Linked DNA regions of Homo sapiens: region 2 is linked to region 1. The links come from fine-mapping of genetic effects on gene expression. Tissue or cell type: whole blood. Region 1 holds a variant in brackets; the other region holds the start of a gene. All regions are shown on one strand. Distances are between the middles of the regions. Region 1 overlaps RNF144A (ring finger protein 144A). Region 2 holds the start of RNF144A (ring finger protein 144A).

Evidence for each region. PIP is the estimated chance that this variant, and not a neighbour inherited with it, causes the effect.
Region 2: it holds the start of RNF144A, and the variant in region 1 is fine-mapped to the expression of RNF144A in whole blood (TOPMed, PIP above 0.99).

Annotation. Positions count from the first base shown.
Region 1 is chr2:7,035,716-7,046,421 of GRCh38, reverse strand. It overlaps RNF144A (ring finger protein 144A), which reads right to left. Exons shown (of 9, transcript NM_014746.6): 9 at 2,243-6,793. The coding sequence ends at 6,662. Among named protein-coding and RNA genes, the nearest start is that of GRASLND, 120 kb to the right of the region's middle. RefSeq lists a silencer at 2,050-2,344 and an enhancer at 8,370-8,664. The variant C/T (reference allele first, on the strand shown) is at 4,993.
Region 2 is chr2:6,912,380-6,923,085 of GRCh38, reverse strand. RNF144A (ring finger protein 144A) reads right to left here and starts at 5,674. Exons shown (of 9, transcript NM_014746.6): 1 at 5,464-5,674. It overlaps GRASLND (glycosaminoglycan regulatory associated long non-coding RNA), which reads left to right and starts at 4,404. Exons shown (of 5, transcript NR_033997.1): 1 at 4,404-4,684; 2 at 5,862-6,236; 3 at 7,119-7,263; 4 at 8,736-8,893; 5 at 9,422-10,706. RefSeq lists a silencer at 5,345-5,834.

The DNA of each region.
Region 1 (10,706 bases):
CCTCCTGCGATGTGGCTCCAGCCTTCCCTGGCTATAGCAGCCACTGCAGCTCTCCACCCTGCTGCTCTGGGCCCCATTCGATGTTGGCTTCATCCGAAAATGCACATCCTGGGTGACTTTAGCTAGAGAAGAGCGAGTAGCCAACACCAGGTCGTGGGCAGCAATTGCTGTTTTTAAATGGCTGAGTTGCTCACTGGTATAGACAGAGATGAGCTGAGCTGAGCTGAGTAATGGACACTGTCTTGTGGTCGAGCCACATCAGCAGTTATAATCTCTCATGTACCTCCTGCAAACAAGTCAAGTTTAGAATACCTTCTAGATAAGCACATGCTATCAAAGTCTGTGCCATTCCCACCTTCTATGCCCTGTAATTTGGGTTCCTCTAAGAGTTGATAAGACTCTTTGCTGGCAAATTTCTTTTTCAATTTTTAGAAACAAATATATGTACCTAGGTAGACACAGAAATATGGATTTATTTTGCTTAACCATCATTGTTTTTTGGCAGTGTTTTCTGGGGGGCAATTCCTACATTCCAGGCCCGCTTCAAGAATTGATGTGCAACCCAGCGTAGGGAAGAACTGCTTCTGGACTGCACCTGAGGCAGCACCACCGGCAACGGAGCCCCGCCACCTGCTGTACCCGTCCACCTTCTCTGGTTGACCTCCCTGGGGCCAGACAGCCCACTCAGAGTCCGTGCTCCCTCCTATGGAGGTGAGTTGTGTTTCCCACAAAAAGTGTTGAAGCCTAACCCCCAGAACCTGTGAACTTGACCTTATTTGTAAATAGGGTCTTTGCAGATGATCGAGTGAAGATGAGGTCATCAGGGTAGGCTCTAATCCAATATGACTTTGCCCTTAGATGAAGGAGCTGTGTCCACAGGCGTGCACACAGGGAGAACGCCGTGGGAACCTGCAGGCAGAGACTGGGGGTGCATCTACCAGCCAAGGAACACCCAGGACTGCCAGCAGTACCAGGAAGTTGCAGAGCAACACGGGCATCCTCCTTACCGCTCTCAGAAGATTCCAGCCCTGCAGATACCTGAACCTTCAGTTTCCAACCTCCAGACCTGGAAGACAGTAAAGCTCTGTTGTTGTAGCCCCTGGTGTGTGGTCCTTTGTGACAGCAGCCCTAGGACCCTAACTCACTCCTCCCACACAGCCTTTATCATGAAGGTCCAGTTCCTGAGTTCGGCACACTGTGCCCCCACCAGGTCAGACATTTGAGTAACTCTCCAACCCCGACACGCCAGTTGGACCAAACTCTGTGCGCTTGTTGAACTGGGCCCTTCCTTTGAACACACTTCTCAGTTTTGCTTGGCTAGTTCCTACTTGTCTACAAGAGCGAGCTCATACATGGCGTCCTCTGGACAGCCTTCCCTGACCTTCCGGCCTGGCCGAAGGGCTGTGCTGTGCCCGCAAAGCCTGCTGAGCGTGCGTCTACCATTGAACTTATTCCACCTTCTTATGATAATTGACTGACTTATCTGTCAACCCCTTGAGACTAAGAGCTCCTTGAGGGCAGATATATTGAGTCTTCAGTGCCCACTATGAATCACCAGTTAACAAAATCCACTCCCTTAATGTGCACCTGTAGATATAAAGAATGGATTTAAAACTTAAACACAGGACAAGGAACCAGTTGCCTATTCCAGACTTGAGCATCATATGAACGCATGAGGTATAGATTCTCCTCCAAGCTGGAGTGAGGTGAATGAAAATCAAGGTGAACCACCACATCTTCAGCTCATTATTATCTCTCCTACGAAATGAGAAGGATCCATATTTATTCCACTTTCTCCCCACCCCCAGCAGATAAAGGATGCCTCCTGATTTTCATGCTGCAACTCATAAAATGTGACAGGTCTGTAAGGAACTTGTCTTTGCGGATGGAAGCAGAGCGCCCTGAGTGGGGATGAGATGCTTCCTGATGCTGCAGTACCGGTTGGGCACCACAAGAGGGAGCCAGGAATGGCTGGACGGGTTGATACACCCAACAAACCAAGTAATTTTGGCATCTAGGAGTTGAGAACATTCCTAAAACAGAAAATCTCAGGATACAAGAGCTGTTTTCCCAGTGATATAAGATCCCTCCCCTGCCTCACCCTTTCTCCCTCCACCCCCAGTTCCCACATTGAATATTTTCAATCTTCAATAGATTAAATATTGAAGACTGAAGATAGAATATTTTCCATCTTCAGGCCAGTAGTCAGATAAGCATCTACAAAAGACGGAGCCACGCGGGGTTTACAAAAGTCACCTGTATTCCAGCCAAAATAGCTTTAAAAAGGAATCCCTGCTAAAGGGGGGGACAAACTACGTAAGACACAATACATTTAAAATATGTATTGAAATTACAAATCAAACTTTTTCCATATGATTCCAGAGTACAAAACACAACATTAAAAGGCATTCAAACAGCTCTTTTATACATCACAGTGTTAGTGGCACAAAATGTACTGACATTTCAAAAACACAAATCAAATCTGTTTTGATTTTGTTTCACCACCACTTGTCAAATACATAACGTATACATGTGCATGACTCATTCATGCATATTTTTATACAAGATTAAAATACACCCATAGTAAAGTGAGCAAAGAAGGAAAGAAAGGGCAGGCATGGGGCATGTAGCTACCCCTCACTGAAGGCTCCGGAACTGTGGAAGACAGAATTGCACAAATCAAAGGAAGGGTGGAGACCCTGGGTTTTTTAAACATCAAGACGGCATGCTCTCCTAGTTGTGAAGCATTAGCAATTAGGTTTTAACGCAGGCCCCTTTGTTCCTTTTGGTGTTTTTGGTAATACCTGTCATAATCCCTTCATTTTGTTTATTTTCATAAGGGCTTAGGTTAATTATCAGAAATAAACAAGCTTTGGTATTTTTTAAAGAGAACTTCATGAAGCTTTACACATGCAAAATGTTTTCCCTTGATGATCTCCTTGTGATTTATATATATACACAGGTGTGCTCACTAATAAATGAGAATCTGAGACACACACACAAAGCCCATCCTGGATCCTTTCAATCCCCTAATTTTTAAAGACTACCAAGAAAAAAATGTTTTTTTAATTTGTAAAATGACTTCTAACTTTTGCAATACAAATGAAAACAATAAACTCATCTTGAAGTAATTTTTGCATCTCTGATAGTCCCTCCCACAGGTCCTGTGTTCTAATCAGGAACTGGCCTGTGCCCTAAACTGGTTTTATGGAATAATATGTTGTCAAGATCATTTGTTCCCCTTTAAGAAAATAGGCCGGGTGGGGTGGCTCAGGCCTGTAATTCCAGCACTTTGGGAAGCCGAGGTGGGCAGATCACCTGAGGTCAGGAGTTTGAGAGTAGCCTGGCCAACATGGTGAAACCCCGTCTCTACTGAAAATACAAAAATTAGCTGGGTGAGGTGGTGGGTGCCTGTAATCCCAGCTACTTGGGAGGCTGAGGCAGGAGAATCGCTTGAACCCGGGAGGCAGAGCTTGCAGTGAGCCGAGATCCTGTCATTGTACTCCAGCTTGGGGGACAAAAGCGAAACTCCGTCTCAAAAAGAAAAAAAAAGAAAGAAAATGCCAGAGGTGGCAGATGTTGGTTCCTCTGTCCACAGCTACTCCTATGAGTTGAGGAGGAAGAACTAATTTGGACAGTTATTCCTGCAATCCGATGCTTTATCTCAGATCCTAAGTCAGTCTCTGCTACGTGGACATCTATGGTGACTGCATCTTTGCAAGGTGCTGACCTCCTATGAGGCTGCAAGCTCATCTGGCTGGGCTATGGACTACACAGCAGAGCCAGACTGAGAGGTCAGGCATTTCCAGCAAAACCTCCAAATGTGGTCAGTTACTCAAGGGCCTCAGAGAAGCCACAGGTCCACTGGGCTAAGGCCAGTCCTCACTGGCCACCCACCCTGGGCGGCAGTACAGCAGCCATGGTTGTCTAAGGGCCTTCGCCCCTTACTCCCCAGGATTAAAGGCCTCTTAGTGAACACATGCCATATGCTTCTGGGGCTTGCAGTGAACACCATCTGTAAGAGTGAATGCCATTTTTCAATGGAGACAAATTATGCCGCTTCACAGGAATAAGTCCGTCCACTCAACGCAGAACTCCCCAGGTTTTACTGGGGAATGATGGCAAGATCAAAGTCCAAACCCAGGGCCATCTGCCTGTGTGCTATTTCCATTTTACATCAAGCAGGGTTCATACTGTATTCCCATCAAAGATAAGTCTGGCACTCCTTACTAAAACAGAAGGAAATGCGAGTTTATGTATCTCAGAGTGATCTTGCTGGTATTTATATAGGAAATGGACAATTTTAATTTTATATCTAGATCAAAATGAGGAAACTGAGGCATGCTTCATACAAAAAGTCAGAGCCAGTAGGTGCCAATTTGACTGCCCCTGGCTGGCCCCAGAATCTCTGTGGTCCCTATCTGGGTTGAACTACGTGCTTGTGAAACACATCAGAGGTGAAGGCACAAGGATGGCTGGGGCTACAGATGTGCATGACTGGGCCAGAGACTCTTCCAACAGAACAGCCTGTCCCTCTAGAAATAAGGTCATCTGAGCTCTAGCCCTGGGGATGCAGCCTTTCCAAAGGCTCTGACTCTCATCCTAAGGACGGGGGTGCTACTGTGTGGGCTCATGCGATGGGCAGCAGCAATTTCAGGCAGGAAGGATGAGCATATGGTGGAGGCGTGTCCTGTGGGCCACTGGACACAGGGCCACAGGCCTCCCATGTGTGCTGGGCATGTTAAAGGGCAGTGGCTGGACAGCTGCATCCACATATCACAGGCTGAGGGCTCAAGCCCAGCCAATGACTCCCGCGTGGAGTTGCCACCCACCTCCAGAAAAGCTATTCTAACAGTAGACACCATCACAGCACCACAAACGACAGAGAGCCACAGCCCAGGTTCCATCCAGAAAGGGAGTCGCAGGCATGTTCTTACTGAGTTACTAAACTTGCAATTACAAGGAGAGCTTTTTGAATGTAATTTTGACACA[C/T]AGGGATTTTCTAAATGGCTTCGGGTTCATAAGGAAAATCAACATGACAGGTGAAGAGTGAGGTGACGCTGTTTTTTCTAACGAATTCAATGTTAGGAAATAAGAAATAAATTTCCAACCAGGGAAAGTAAACTAGGACCTGAGACTGATACTCAAATGCAGAAGTCAAACACACACAAAGCAACATTTTAAAAATGTGCTTGTGATGGGCAAATAACTGAGATAAAAGGATTTTGTTTTACTTCTTTATAGAATGTTTAACAAGATTTTTAAAATCCCACTGTAATATAGCTACAATATTTGCCTGTTATTTTTAGAAGTTTTAAATTCAATGCAGTTTGCTTTGTAAAAGCACCTGTGGCTTTTAGAAGTAAATTCTCTTTAAAGAATACACTTTCTCCACTTTTCAAAGTCAATTGGTGGAATAATGTGTATGTGTCCTTATTAATCCCTGCATCCTGCTGCCATGGAAATGGTCACAGACAGCCCTGTAAAAGATCAAGTGGTAAAATCCCCACGTTAAAACGAAGTGAAATGGGAGGTTCTTTTCCCCAACAAGAGCAAAACGGTTAGCAACAGGACTTGGAACTGTGTAAGATATATGATTTCTCAAAATGACTAGAACATTTTAAAAATGTGAAAATCTGGCAGGCTCTTCCCTAGCCCCCAGAGTCCTCCAGCCTCTGCCAAGAGGCCCCTACATCTGCGGATCAATGAGGCTGCTTTCTTCTTACTGTCTATCTGAAGACTGAGGCCAGAGGCCAGACGGCAGCAATTCGGAGGAGAACCATTGCCGAGCAAAGCAGTGGGATTGAATACAATAAAAAGCGTTTTCTGCTACCTGGGAGAGAAGGGATGAGGCCCATGAGCTGAGCTGAATCACCAAAGAGAGAAAACAACAAAAGGCAAATCTAATGGAGATGAGATGTTCCTTTAAACACGTCAATATTATCAAGGAAATGCAACAATATAGGAAGCACACTTATAACAGTACACAGCTTACAGCGTTCAAAAAGTTACTACAGCAAGTTTCAAGAAAAACACAAAGAGTGCATAAGGCTTTCTAAATCTCCTGAAAAGTCGTTTAACTATAACTTCTTAAAATGCACATTTCAAGAAAGGCATAGGATGGTTTATATGCACCTTGTTGATTTTCACTACTCAGTTGGAAAAAAAATACCTTCTAAAAAGGATTTTACTAAATGCCATTAGTAATAAAAACAGTTGTCATAAACAGAGTGCTTCTCTCAAGCTGGAATAATCAGATTCTGTCTGAAGAGAGTGGCAGTCCTTAAAAGACTTCTCTGACAACATGGTGCCATCTAGAAGCCAAGGAGCAGAAAGTCTCTTAGGCCATCCCCAGACATGCCTAGTCTACCACAGAGAGAAAGCTGCCTGGTGCACTTCTCACAGCACCTCCCTGTCATCTGCAGAGATTGATCTGTGGGGATGTGCGCTACCCACACCTGCCTCCCCTCCCCACCACACCTGGGGCCTCAGCGAACATTGTGACATAGGTCCCTGAAATCACGGCGTCCAGCCTGACACTGTGAAGCTCAATGGGGCACATAAGGCAAGAAAGATGTTTAGTGAAGGGGGGACGGTGGGGAGGGTTGGGGGAGAGCCACACTTCCCGGAGGCAGGGATGTGTTCCAGCATCGCGCTTCCTCTAGGTGGGTAACGGGTCGTCGTCACCTTTACTGCACTTGCACTTGCAGCAAAGTACAAAGGGAGTGGCCAGGAGTAGGAAAGGTGAGGCCACCAAGAGCAGCAGCCCAAATCCTGCAAAAATGCCCACAACCTGGAAGAAAGAAACAAAGGGGTAGAGGTAAGGAGGGCTGGTCTGTAGGTTCCAGAGCTAAAGTGTAAACCACACAACCAGCTACCCATCCATCCATCCATCCATCCACCCAACCATCCATCTATCCATCCATCCATCTACCCATCTAGTCATCATCTACTCATTCATCCATTAACCATCATATATCTCTCTATCCATCCATCCACCTACCCATCCATCTATCCATCCATCCATCTACCCATCTAACCATCATCTACCCATTCATCCATTAACCATCATACATCTCTCTATCCATCCATCCACCTACCCATCCATCTATCCATCCATCCATCTACCCATCTAACCATCATCTACCCATTCATCCATTAACCATCATCCATCTCTCCATCCATCCACCTACCCATCCATCTATCCATCCATCCATCTACCCATCTAGTCATCATCTACCCATTCATCCATTAACCATCATCCATCTCTCTATCCATCCATCCACCTACCCATCCATCTATCCATCCATCCATCTACCCATCTAACCATCATCTACCCATTCATCCATTAACCATCATACATCTCTCTCTCCATCCATCCACCTACCCATCCATCTATCTACTCATCCACCCATCCATTTACCCATCCATCCAACCATCCACCCACCCATCAATACCTAGCCATCACCCACGCATCTATCCATCTAACCATCATCCATCTATCCATCCACTCTCATCCATCTATCCATCCATCCATCATCCATGCATCCATCCACCCATTCACCCACTCACCCACCCATCTCTTTATTCATCCACCTATCCACCCATCTACCCATCCATCCACCCATCCACCCATCTATCCATCTAACCATCATCCATCTGCCCATCAATTCACCAGTCTATACCCTTCCATTCATATACCCACCATCTACCCACCCACCCACTCATCTGCCCACTATATATCCATCCACCGACTATACATTCTTCCCTTCATTTTTCCCTCATTCTTCTTTTCCACCTCTTCCTTTCCCTTCCTTCTCTCTCTCCACCCTTTTCCATCTAAACACCCAAACATCCATACATCTATATATCCTATTAACTAACAAGTTTCCTCTCAGCAGCCACCCTGACCCAGACACTGCACTTGACACTGCAAATACAGAGGTGCATACATCTTGGCCCTCGAGGAACACCCTGTCTGGCAGAAAAAGACCAAGATCTAATCAACTGATAACAAGACATTCTACAGAAACTGCCATCAGGTTCCAGGGGTGCAGCCCCACACACCCCCGCCATGTGAGTGACAGACACCATTTGCTAGGGGAAAGGAGGGTTTCCAATGGCAGGTGGCTGAGATAATGGAGACAAGCAGGTTGTTACTACAGAAGAAAGACTGGAATAGTGCATTTCCGACGAGAAAACAGAAAAGACACAGGCATGGTGCATCAGAGAATGACCTGGCCCCCTGTCCTTCCTGGAGTCTAAAGCCCAATACTGACTGTTACGTATTTTGATTTTTGCTTGAAAACATGTTTATCCCTAGTTATGAGTAAAGGCCAAAAGAAATAAGCCTCAAATGCAGACATGCCATCATCTGAGTCAGGCGGCATGGCTGGTCAAAGAGGCACAGAGCCTGCTTTCCAGCCGGCCTCGCCATTCACAGAGTCCCAACCCAGGCAGGCAGCCTGCAGAAATGAGAGCGAGGACAGGGCTAGACCGCCACCTAGTGTTCAGTGTGGCCAGTAAATGCAAGCACCAGCACATGGTTCTCATTCCAACTCAGCCTTCACTTCTCCCTGGGTCTGTTTTCTCATCTATAAAATAAACAAATGAAGTAAAAGATCTTTACGGGCCATTATCAGCCCTAAAATATGAGACTCTACTAAAGCATCCCAGATGTGTGGAACAAAGTATACCTCGACTGAGATTTCTCCTGAAAATCAACACCAACACATGCACACGTACGTGCATACGTGTATAAATTAGATTGCATTTAATAAATTATGCCACATTGCATTTATACATTGGATTGTGCTAATGCTGGGAATCCATGCCTGCTGCCCAGCTGGCTACGTTCATTTGTCTGAACAACATATCAACGGTGGAACTACCCAGTGTGAATTCAGGTTGTGCTTTACTGAAATCACGTGCACGCTGATATGCAGAAGGCATAAAACATGCAGTAAGCTCTACCCTATTTGAAGGGAAATTTTGAGCAACCTCGACTACCTGGCACACAACTGTCAGTCTTGAAAGAGCCACACATTCTTTGCAGTCAAAATAATGCCAAAATCCTGGACCAAATGATCACATTCTTAGCCAATCACACACCATCTTCGCTTTTCACTCAGTCTACCTCGTCTCTAAATTTGCCTGCTGTTTGAGAAGCCGGGTTACCCAACGTATTGCCAATTGGTGACAGGCAGATGCAGGTACTGCCAGTTACGCAGCCAGCAGTAAAAAATGAGACAGGAAGCAAATATCACAAAGCAAAAAGAACCACTGTGTGTGTGTGCTGTGGATGTGTGTCAGATACTTGATCACAGAAGGCAGAGGGATGGGTAAACAGTTTCAGGCTCCAGAGAGAATCTGTACAGCACAGCTTCGTTCGTACTGGCAAACCCTAAGATTTAAAGGAACAGTTACCCCTTCCCATGAAGTTTCTTAGATGTGTGCTACTTAAAGCCAGAACACTCTTTCTGCAAACCATTCTAAGTTCCCATGCACAGCCCGGCACCTCTCATAATCAATGTCCGACCCAGGTTTATGGGACGAGCCAGTTGAAACTGACAAGGTTCTGAATGGCTGCCCCCAGAGAATTCTTGTACAAACCACATTCAAGGGCTTGGAAAACTAAGCCAAAATCTGAGATCTGGTAAGGTGAATGGAACACTATTAATTCACTGAAACTAGGTAACTGAAGGTGGCACAGACAAGTTCAGAATCACAGTATCATATTTGATCCCTGGATTATAATCCAGTCTAATTTTCTCATTTCACAGATGCAAAATCTATACCCAAAAAGCTATTCCAGAGGTCCAATATTTGTTTAAAACAGACAGAGCTTAGCATCCTGGTGTAAGTACAAGAGATAGATCGTGCCTATTTCACTGATCTCAGTGAGAAATACCCTTAGAACAGTCACTGCATGTGGCTTCCAGGACATAAGCATTTCTGGAAGGAACACCTGGTCCTTCGGCTCAGTCTCTGAAACTATCACTGTGCACCCCTCCACGGATGCATGTGAATACAGAAGATCAGTAATCAGCTGGCTTTCGTAAATACCATCCTTTGGCTAAAAATGAGCTCTTTATCAAAGATGGACTGGGGTAAAGAAAGTTTCCTTTCACTTCTCAGAAGAGAAGGAAGAGCTGGTTTTGGGTAAGATTCTCCCTTGTCAGATGCTGATGTCCTAAGGAAGTAAGGTTACTCTAGAGAAAATGAAATGCTCCTCCACACGATGGCTGATTTCTGGGATAGCGCTGGAAAAAGGCCGGCAAGCACTTCATGCAATCGTGTGCACAGCGAATGCACAGGAGGGCAGATGGACAGGGCACAGGTGCGGCTCACAGCACCCACACTCACTCCAGCAACCGCACAGTCAGTCCCACGTGAGACATCTGCCCACCGTGCGGTCTTGCATTCGCGGCCACTCTGCTGGTTTTCATGCTCATTTACTTTAACAGGAGACTCTGCTATACTGAATAAAAAATGTATCACTTGCGATGAAACAAACTGTACAATAACTTTATGCAACAAAGACAATTCTTCCTTTACAGCACTGTTTTCCGTTTGACAAGAGTGCCAGGTAAGATGCAAGTGGCATATAAAACCTCTGCTCCCGTAAAAAATAATGAAAGCAGCCTGCAATCTCAAAGAGACACGTTGGAATTCCCCCAAATCTCTTAGAATAATCTTACTGAGCT
Region 2 (10,706 bases), 120 kb after region 1:
GGTGCAGACATCAGAGAGTTCACTCTAGAATGCTGGAAACTTGCAGAGGAGGCTGCAGACCAGTCAGCGACGGAGGGTGCACAGAGGGGACTCCTGCAACCCACCAGATCACCAGCCAGGTGACACACCCTGGAGTCTGAGACACACTATGAAAAAGCAGGAGGCCGGGCGCGGTGGCTCACGCCTGTAATCCCAGCACCTTGGGAGGCCGAGGCGGGCGGATCATGAGATCAGGAGATCAACACCATCCTGGCTAACACAGTGAAACCCCGTCTCTACTAAAAATACAAACAATTATCAGGGTGTGGCGGCGGGCGCCTGTAGTCCCAGCTACTCGGGAGGCTGAGGCAGGAGAATGGCGTGAACCCAGGAGGCGGAGCTTGCAGTGAGCTGAGATTGCACCACTACACTCCAGCCTGGGCGACAAAGTGAGACTCCATCTCAAAAAAAAAAAAAAAAGAAAAACAAGAAAAACCGGGCGGGTCCCCTCTGCATGGCTCGCAGGAGGCAGTCAAGCTTGCTGCATTCTGCACTCCTCTGCCCTCCAGAGGACCTTAACACACCATGCATCAACAATAAACATGCCCTGCTCCACAGAATTACCTGAAAGCAGTTCTTGGGAAACCTAAAAAGTATTCCCAGGAACACAATGTTGTAAGAGATGTGCACAGTCCTTGGACAGACACAAAAGCCCGTTCAATCAATAAAGAGACTCTGACAACATCCACTTTCAGGACTTGGAACCCTTCCCTTTTGCTCCCACAGGCTCCCATAGGCAGAAGCCCCCAGAGCCTGCACGGCCATATCCAGCACATGCACGGGGCTAATGTCTAGTTCGCTGGCCCCAGTCAACTATGGGTCACTCGGAAGACATGGGAGCAAGGTGACTGACTGTAAAAACAATGGTCGCTATGGGTGGTTCCCCTGATCTTTCCCTGAACTCACTCTCCCACCAGGTAGAACTGGAGGAGGAGGAAAGGAAATGGAGGGAACACAGATAGGGAAAGACGCTCCAAAACAAAACAGTGAAAAGGAAAATGCACTGATGGGACCTTCCAGGAGATGCCAGTAATGAAAGCGGCTGTATTACACACGGAAATCTGGGTCCAAACAGCTCAGAGACCACCAGCCACCCTAAAAAGGCCAATGGTAAGGCAGCTGGGGAGCTCGGCCCTGTGTGCTGGTCCTAAGTTCCCTGTCCACCCCAGGCTGTTTCTTGCTGTTCCCAGGCCCAGAATGTGACCTTGTCCCTCTTAATTTGCCTAGCTAACTCTGACCCGTCCCTCCCATCCCAGACCAACAGCATCGCCCCAGCAGGCAGCCTCCCTGCCACCCGGGGCTGATCCAGGCACCCTCCTGTGGGTCCCACTGCTCTCTGCCCTGACCTCCCATGCTGCCCTGACCCCACGGTTCAATCTGTTAATGTTTGAGCTTCCCGCTCCCTAGACTACAGCCTCCTCAAGGTCATGGGATCTATCCTTATCTGCAGGCCTCTGGGTTCAAAGCCAGGCTTCAAAATTGACGACGTGTGTGCGATGTTGGACAACATCCCTGCTCTCTGCTTCACTCTGCTCCTCTGTCAGCTAGGGATAGCAACATACGCCTGTGCTGCAGGGCTGTGTGAGAACTGCATCCACGATGCAAGCAAAGCCCTGAAGATCAGGCAAATCCATAATGAGTATCAACCACCTCCTCCACCTCTAGTGCCAAACACACCTGAGATGATAAAATACTGGTTGACACACTGCATGCCACCAAGGAGCTTGCTTTTGTCTGGAACACTGCATCCAGCTTATAAGCCTGCTCCTTAGAGAAAGCCTGCCTTCCAGTTCTACGGAACATCCAGGAAGTAAGCACCTTTAAATTCAGGTCTTGGGTTATTTGTGGAGTGAAGCAAGGTGAAGGCTCCTATCAGCAATGAGCCACCCTCCTCAAAGCTTCATTTCTCACCATTTCACTTTGGAAAAAATCCACTCTTCTGAAAGTTAAAATATTTTCTCTTGGGAAACAAACAAACCCTTACGAATGGTTGTACTTGGTGAGTCGTCCTGTAATATTTATTCTCCTGGAAAAAAAATATGATCCAACAGTACATTTTTATTTCTGGATCTTGGAAAATATTTACACCAACACCTCAGTTTTATCCTCAAAAAACTGGAGCCATCCAGGGAGGTTAAGACGCTGGCCCAGGGCCAGACAGCTGGGTCAGGAAATTGTAATAAGCTCTATCCTTCAGCCCCACTACCCAGCAGGTATGTGAGCAGTGGCTTCAATTTAATTTCTTCATCTAACTAAGAAAGGGTATTCATGTGTTTCAGTAATGCAGAAACAACGGAGAAAGGAGGCTAGTCTTGGAAATGATTACTTCTTAAAGAAAAGAAAGGCACCTCCAACTTCATTCTTCGATCTCAATGTTAGAAAATTCCCCAGAGAAAACACGGAGAGTCCCTCTTCCTTAGAAGCACTCCATTCCATTCCCCGCCTCTGGGCTGCCTCTGAGATCCCACATCCTGTGAAGCCAGGGGTTCCTTGCTCTAAGAGAGTCTGAGGGCTCAATATCATCCTGAATGGTTCCAGACCACCCAACGTGCAGGGCAGCGAGCACGGCTTCATCCTCTTCTATTGCAAGTGAGGTATGGGAAAAAAGGGACAGCAGACAGAACCAGAAAAGCTGATGCCAGGGCTGGACCAGCCACAGCTTTTCATGTGGCCTGGGCTACCTGACCCCTCCTTTCCAAGCTACGAGGTTCCCATGGTTACAACAAGGGTTCATAGGCCAGGTGGGTGCTGGCCCACCTGGTTCTGTGATTGTCAGTCTCCAAGGGCAGGCTTCCTTCCCATCTCTACCCCCAGAGGGAAAGGCTTCCAGGAGGGAGAAATGTGAACAAAAGTAGGCAGTGGGGCCACGTGGTGGACCACAGGGGAAAGAATGTTCTCAGAGGCAGGCAACGTAGCTTGTAGCTCCCAACCCTGCCGCCGCCTGCCAGAGTGGCACTTCTACCCCTGAACCTCAGCAGCTTCAGCCAAACAGTGTGAGGTCCCTTCAAAGTCCCAAACCACACTGAATCCCCAGGAGACGTGACTTACTCTAGCAACAGTCTGGATACAGGGATTACCAACTAGCAAGCTGAGGGCACTGGAATCTATTTATAAAATATATGCATTTTACAATGCTCTTTGAGTTTCCCAAATCCTCATGGCACAGATGACCTGGGGGTGCCTGCATCGTGCATTTGAGTTTGCCCTTCATTAGTTCCTCTTCCAGAGTTGCTGACATTAGAATCGGGAGCTCTTTAAAAACACAAACTGCAAAAATCAAATTGCACTGGGTCTGGAAAATTTCCATCCCATTAAAATTGGGTTATTTGCACCCATTTTCTCATGAGGTCCTCAATCCATCCACAGCCTTTGATGCCTGATGCAGGTGGAAGCCCACAGCCAGTGGGGGTCTGACTCGGAAGCCACAGTAAGGCACACCACACCATGCCTTCCCTTCCACGCAACACCGCGGAAATCACTCTAAAGCAGGGCTCAGATCACCCTCCTCCTCCAAAACCATCAATGGCTCCCACTGACACAGAGTCAAACCCAAAGTCTTGGCCTAGAATTCAAAGATTTCATGATTTATCCTCTTCTGACCCCTCTAGTCACATTTCCTTTGCACGCTTTAAAAATAAAAACAAAAATGTAAAAGGCATTAGAAAAGTGCAAAAAACAAGGTTCCCTAATCTCAGTACCGGAGAAGAGAATACAATAAAAAAGGCTGTTGTCTCCTTTGGAGCCACTGGGTGAATCCCCTGGGAAAGTTCACGGTGTCACACACCTTGTCCCTCCCCCTTCCTGCGCTGGAGCAGCTCTCTCTGGACAGAGGCCCTTCCTGCCACCTCTGACCTGCCCCACCTGCAAGCTTTGACTCAGACACCCCCTCCCTTGCAAAGGGGACTCCCTTTGCAGGGACACCCTGACTCCCTCCCTTCCCTCCTGGGGGCTCCCACAGCTCCACAGGCGTCTACACCAACTTACTTTCTACCTGGCATTTCATTTACAAATCCATCTTATCTGCCAGGCTCAACTCTCAACCCCAGCCCCATTCACTGGGGCATGTCCTCCTTCCATCTCCCAGGCCCCATTACGGGAAGTGTTTTCTTCCCAGGCTCTTAGTGCAGGAGCTAGACCCCCTCTCACCGCAGGGCAGCAGGGATCCACTGGGGATAGTTCCCTGGGGCCTTACCTCACTCCTCTGTTACCCCAGCCTTGATCCTGCAGGAGGCAGCGCAGGATGTTTGTTCAATGGATTTTTTTTTTTTTTTTTTTTTTTTTTTGAGACGGAGTCTCGTTCTGTCGCCCAGGCGGGAGTGCTGTGGCGCGATCTCCGCTCACTGCAAGCTCCGCCTTCCGGGTTCACGCCATTCTCCTGCCTCAGCCTCCCGAGTAGCTGGGACTACAGGCGCCCGCCACTGCGCCCGGCTAATTTTTTGTATTTTTAGTAGAGAGGGGGTTTCACCGTGGTCTCGATCTCCTGACCTCGTGATCCGCCCGCCTCAGCCTCCCAAAGTGCTGGGATTACAGGCGTGAGCCACCGCGCCCGGCCAGTTCAATGGATTTTAAAAATTATTATTCTCTAGAAAAAAGACCACGAACTTTGGAGTGGACATCCTGAGACCTGCCTACGAAGACCATTAGGGTAAAGAAGTCACCCCTTCACCCCAGGACCAGGAAGCCTCCAGGATGGCATAAGCGACCAAACAGCTGGGAGCCAAGCACAGTGCAGGGGGCTTGGGGTCGGCGGCCGGAGGCTGGGGTGGGTAAGACCCGCAGGGAACTCCGGGGCTCGGGCGGCGGCTCATTCCCCGGGAAAGGGCTCGCGGTGGGGACCAGGGGCAGTAGCAGCCGCGGACCCCGCGCGCAGGGGATGTGCGGGGCATCCTCTTGGCCAGTTCCGACCTTCCCCGCCGGTGGCGATGCCCCGGACGCGTCGTCCTTTCCCAGACCTCCTCTTGGGGCCGAGGCTCCAGCCCCAGGGTCTGCGGGCGGGGCCGCGAACCTTGAAAGCCCCCGCCGCCAGCTCGCCCGCGGGACCCTGGCCCGGGGCGCCCTGTCCCGCGCCGCAGCGCAGACCCGCGACCGCGCAGGGCAGGCAGGGGGACGCCAGGTCCCTAAGCGCCCACTGCCCTGGGGCGCGGGCGCCGCCTGCGAGAGGCAGGGCAGGGCAGGAGCAGAGCAGGGACGAGGTCAGGGACACGGGCAGGGCAGGGCGGGCGTCCTCTGAACGGAGCCCGCGAGTCCCCGCCCGGGACGCTGCCCCCCGCCCGCTGCCACCGGGCGCCGGGGCAGGACCCAGCGGGGCAGGCGCGGCCGCAAGCCCCGAGCCCCAAGGCCGGCCGCGCAGCGCCGCGTCCCGCCCTCCCCGCTCCGCGGCCGGCCCGGGCGATGCGGACACAAAGGGGACGCGCGTCACTCTACCTGGGCCTGCTCGTCCGCGGTGCGCGGCTCTGACGCCTCCGCCCGGTACTGGCTGCGGGGTGCCGGGTGCCCGCAGTTTGCCGCCCGCGCCTCCCCGCGCCCGCGCAGCCCGCACGGCCCGCACTGCAATGCCAGCCCTGCCGCCTCCCGCCTGCCGAGAGCCCGCGCGGGGAGAAGCGGCTGCGCGGGCGGGGCGCGAGCGCGCACAGAGGCCGGGCACGCGGGAGGCTCGGCCCCGGCCCCGCCCCCGCGCCGAGCCGCACAGCGCCCCCTGCCGCCCGCCTGCGCCGGCCCGAGGCCCGGAGCCGCCCCGCAGGCCCCAGGACAGGCTCCGGCACGAGGAGGGGCTGCGGAGACCGCCCGTGCACGCTAACATGAAAATGCTATTCCTGCTTTAGTGGCCTCCAGAAGACACTCCCCTGATTCCTACACCGAGGGAACACACAGCAGCAAGCTAGGAAAGAAGGGGTGACCCAGCCCAACGCTGTAAACCAGGGCGCGAACCGGCGTTGAGCTGTGCAGCTGCGCCCTGGGCTCCAGTCCTGCTCTGCCGCAGACCCCACCGGAGCCAGCACCTGCCTCCCCGACCCTCGCTGGGGCGGCTGTGAGATGAGCCCAGAGCCTTCCTGAGCCAACCCTCGCAAGGAAAGTCTGTCTGTTCACCCCACTATCCTTGTCTTGAAGGATGAAGAAAAGAGGGCCCCCCGGGAGGTCCCAAAAGGTGGAATGGACATCTGGGATCCAAGCACAGCAATTTCTTTATTTTTCTTAAGGTATCCAGCTTGTTGGAATCTAAGATCTGCGAAGGTATTAATAGAATTCCTGCATCTTCTGCCACTCCCCATAGAAGCTTGAAGTTACACAAATGTTAAATTATACGTCAGATGTGCATATATGAACAAAACCTACGAGTGTGCATGAAATAACACCTTCTTAAATATATAGATTCTTTTTTCTGCAATATTAAATGGAAACCCCACTAGAACATCGTTTTTCCTTAATAGCATACCCTCCACACTGTGTGGTCTAAATTCAAGCTCTACCACCTACTAGCCATTAAGCAAGTTATTAAGGTCTTCGTGCTTCCATTTTCTTACGTGGAAAATGAGGTGGCAATAGTATGTATGAGTTCTTCGGAGGGATTAAACAAGTCAAATAGGCCAAGTGCCATGGCTTACACCTGTAAGCCCAGCACTTTGGGAGGCCAAGGCAGGAGGACTGCTTGAGCCCAGGAGGTCAAGGCTGAAGTGAGCTGTGTTTGCATCACTGCACTCCAGCCTGGGCAGCAGAGTGAGACTTTGTCTCTCAATAAATAAAGAAATAGTCAAATTAAATATAACTGGCAAACTAAAACAACTCCATAGTCCTTAGCTACAATTTGTCTCATTTCTCCAAAGAATTAAATCAGATGATTCTTAACTAACTCAAAGCTCTGCATAATTTGTCTTCTGCTACACATACATCTTTATAGTAAAATAAAATAAAGCTGTCCCCTCTGTATTGAGAAGTTATTCTGGTAAATATTTGACCTCTTCAAATATATGAACGAGCACTTGCCTTCTAATGCCTCAGTTTCAGATTCTTTTTAGAAATGTCATTATTCAAGAAAAATGCACAATGGGAAGAATCTTAACAACAGCACTTTGTTACTTCAGCCTCTCACTAGAGGATGAAAATCGTTCTGCATAAAGGCCTGGGCTTTATGAAAAATATATTCACACCTCCCGTGTCCGAGCTGGGATACCAAAGAAGTTCCTGGTTGAGTACTACTTATGAATGAAGGATTCAGGGGATGCACAGGTGGGTGACTGCAAATGCACAGACGTTGTGCTGTGTTCCCCACAATAAAGGGGTCTGTATTAAGATGCAGGCATTCTCATGGAACACAGACGTATAACACTCAAGCTGGGGGACTGCAAAGGAGCATCTGGGGCTGCAGGAAGAGAGTTAAGGTGCAAAAATGCCCTGACCCAACTGAGACTTGTAATTGCTCATGTGGTAATACATGTGACTTCATTCCCCTGCTCTGTCTTTGTGAATGCAACCATTGTTGGGGAGATAGTGAGAGGGGACACTGGCATTGAAAGTTTTGTTTGCAGCAGGCCTCAAAAGGCACTCAGATGCAGATTTCCCTGCAAAGACTTCCCGGCCTATCATGGAGTTCCCCATCCCTAGATCTCTGATCTCTGAGCTGGTGTAATACTTAGTCTTTGTCTGTGTTGATCATGGCATCTGCCACACTTAATGTTTGTGGCATTCACTTTCTGATGCTTAGATCTTACGATTCTAGAGAACAGCATTTTTCTACATATTCCCTCTTAGGGCCTTGAACATAATAAGTGCTCAATAAATACTGAGTGAAATCCTCTACTCTGAGCTTTGCCTCTGAGCAGCTGTCCTAGTTCTCTCCAACAAGAAGTTTGTTGGGTCTCTCAAGTTCACTTCCACCTGTCACTGTCAGTTTTCAGTCCAGCCCCTTACTCAGGTCTGGCTGGCCCATCTCCCCCAGAGGGCTGTCCCATAGAGCCCATTGTAAAGGACACTCATTGTTGCCAAGAGTTTGTGCCAATGCAGTATGACTCACCCTTCACTCATTGAACAAGCTCTTCCTGATTACCTAGATGGGCAAAATTTCCCTGCTCATGCGAAGCAGGCTGGCGACTCAGTGCTGCAGCAAATGGCCCAGAAGCTGGGAAAGCAGATAGCCGTTCTGACACTTCTCTTCTAGACAGAAAATCAAGGGAAGCTCAAGACCCACACTTGAATTTTTTTTAAAAAATTAGACAAGGGGCTGGGTGTGGTGGCTCATGCCTGTAATCCCAGCACTTTGGGAGGCCGAGGCAGGCAGATCACCTGAGGTTGGGAGTTCAAGACCAGCCTGACCAACATGGAGAAACCCCTGTCTCTGTTAAAAATACAAAATTAGCCAGGCGTGGTGGCACATGCCTATAATCCCAGCTACTCGGGAGGCTAAGGCAGGAGAATCGCTTGAACCCCAGAGGCAGAGGTTGCGGTGAGCCGAGATCGCACCACTGCACTGCAGCCTGGCAACAAGAGCGAAACTCAGTCTCAAAAAAAAAAAAAAAGAAAGAAAAAGAAAAAGAAAAGAAAAAAAATTAGACAAGGAAGTTTATGTGAATTTGTAATCACACATTCCATAAATATAGAAAATTCACTTTTTTTATTTTAAAAATTAACAAATTCCATTTCTTGTTTCTCTAGAGTAGCAGGAAATCAAATGTCAGTTCTCATTCTGACTTTCTCTCCTTAAGGACACAGAGGAATCTGGGGGATATTATGGTTCTGGGAATGTGGAATGTAACGTCTCATCTTCAGCCCATCTGTGCTACTGATCATCTCATTCCAGAAGCCATGCCTTCTCTCAGGAGCAGACAGCACAAGACTTTCCTGCCAGAGGCACAGTCCCCAGGTGAGCCACACAGCCTTCACAGGGTAATGCCAAAGAACAGAGGAGAGTTCCTGCTACTCTCCGGGTCTTCTTGGCAAAGCTTCTGATACAGTCTGGCTGTCTCTCCACCTGAATCTCATCTTGAATTGTAGCTCCCATAATTCTCGTATGTCATGGGAGGGATCAGGTGAGAGGTAACTGAATCATGGGGGTGGGTCTTTCCTGTGCCGTTCTCGTGACAGTGAATAAGTTTTATGAGATCTGATGGTTTTATAAAGGGGAGTTCCCCTGCAAATGTTCTTGCCTGCTGTGACTTTGCTCCTCCTTGCCTTCCGCCGTGATTGTGAGGCCTCCCCAGTTATGTGGAACTGTGAGTCCATTAAACCTCTTTTTCTTTATAAATTACCTAGTCTCAGGCATGTCTCTATTGGCAGTGTGGGAACAGACAGACTAATACAGCTTCCCTTGTCTGTACTCTTACCCTTCTCCCTTCAAAAGCATCCTCTCTTTCTTTTCCAACCTTTCCAACCTCTCGAATAATCTCTGCAGTGGGAGTAGCATCCACATAAGACAGGATGCAGAGATGTCTTCAAGCAGCTTCAAACAAAACTTCAAGAAAGAAAGTGCAAGTGAAAAAGGAAATTCATCCTTCCAGTCACTTAACACAGCACTGTCACGGACACCTTGTGCCTCCTTAAAATTCGTATACTGAAGTTCTAAGCCCCAGTACCCCAGAATGTGACCTTCTTTGGAAATAGGGTCATTGCAGATATGATTAGTTAAGAGGAGATCATACTGGAGTGGGCTTTAATCCAATATGACTGGTGTCCTTATGTAAAGGGGAAATTTGGACACAGACACACACAAGGAGAACACCATGTGAACTGAAGTCAAAGATTTGGGTGATGCTTCTACAAGCCAAGAAATGCCAAAGATGACCAGCAAAGCACCGGCAGCTGGTGGAGGAGCCTGGACCAGATTCTTCCTCACAGCCCTCAAAAGGAACCAATCTTGCCAAAGCTTTGACTTAGACTTCTAGCCCCCTGTGATGGTTAATGTTAAGTGGCAGCTTGACTGGGTTAAGGGATGCCCAGATAGCTGGTAAGACAGTATGTCTGTGTGCATCTCTCAGAGTGTTTCTGGACAAGATCAGCATTTGAATCCTTAGAGTAAAGAAGATCTGCCCTCACCCACGTGCATCACCCTATCTCTGGAGAGCGCGAACAAACAGGAGGAAGGGCACATATGCTCCTTCTGTTCCAGCTGGCACATCCATCTTCTCCTGCCCCCTGACTTCAGAGCTCCTGGTTCTCGGGCCTCAGGATTCCAGCACTTACATGAGAGCGTGCTTCCCCCTCCCTACTCCACCCCTAGGTTCTCCGCCCTTTGGCCTCTGACTGAATTCCACCACCAGCTTTTCAGGGTCTCCAGCTTGCAGACGGCAGATCGTGGGACTTCTTGGCCTCCATAATTATGTAAGCCAATTCCCATAATAAATCTCCTATCTATCTATCTATCTATCCATCTATCAATCATCTATCTAGTCTATCTATCTATCTATCTCTATCCTATTGATTCTGTGTCTCTGAGGAACCCTAATACACCTCCAGAACTGTGAGATGATACATTTCTGTGGTTTAAGCCACTCAGAAGGTGGTACTTTGTTTCACCAGGCCTAGCAAACTAATACAAGTGCATGGAAGGTGACTACTCATGACTGCAACTTAGAGAACAAGGGTTATAATAAAAATAAAAGTGTTATACAAAGGTGGCAAGATAAATGACAATAAATGAAAATATTAACATGTGAATTAAAAAGTAAAGATATTTTTCC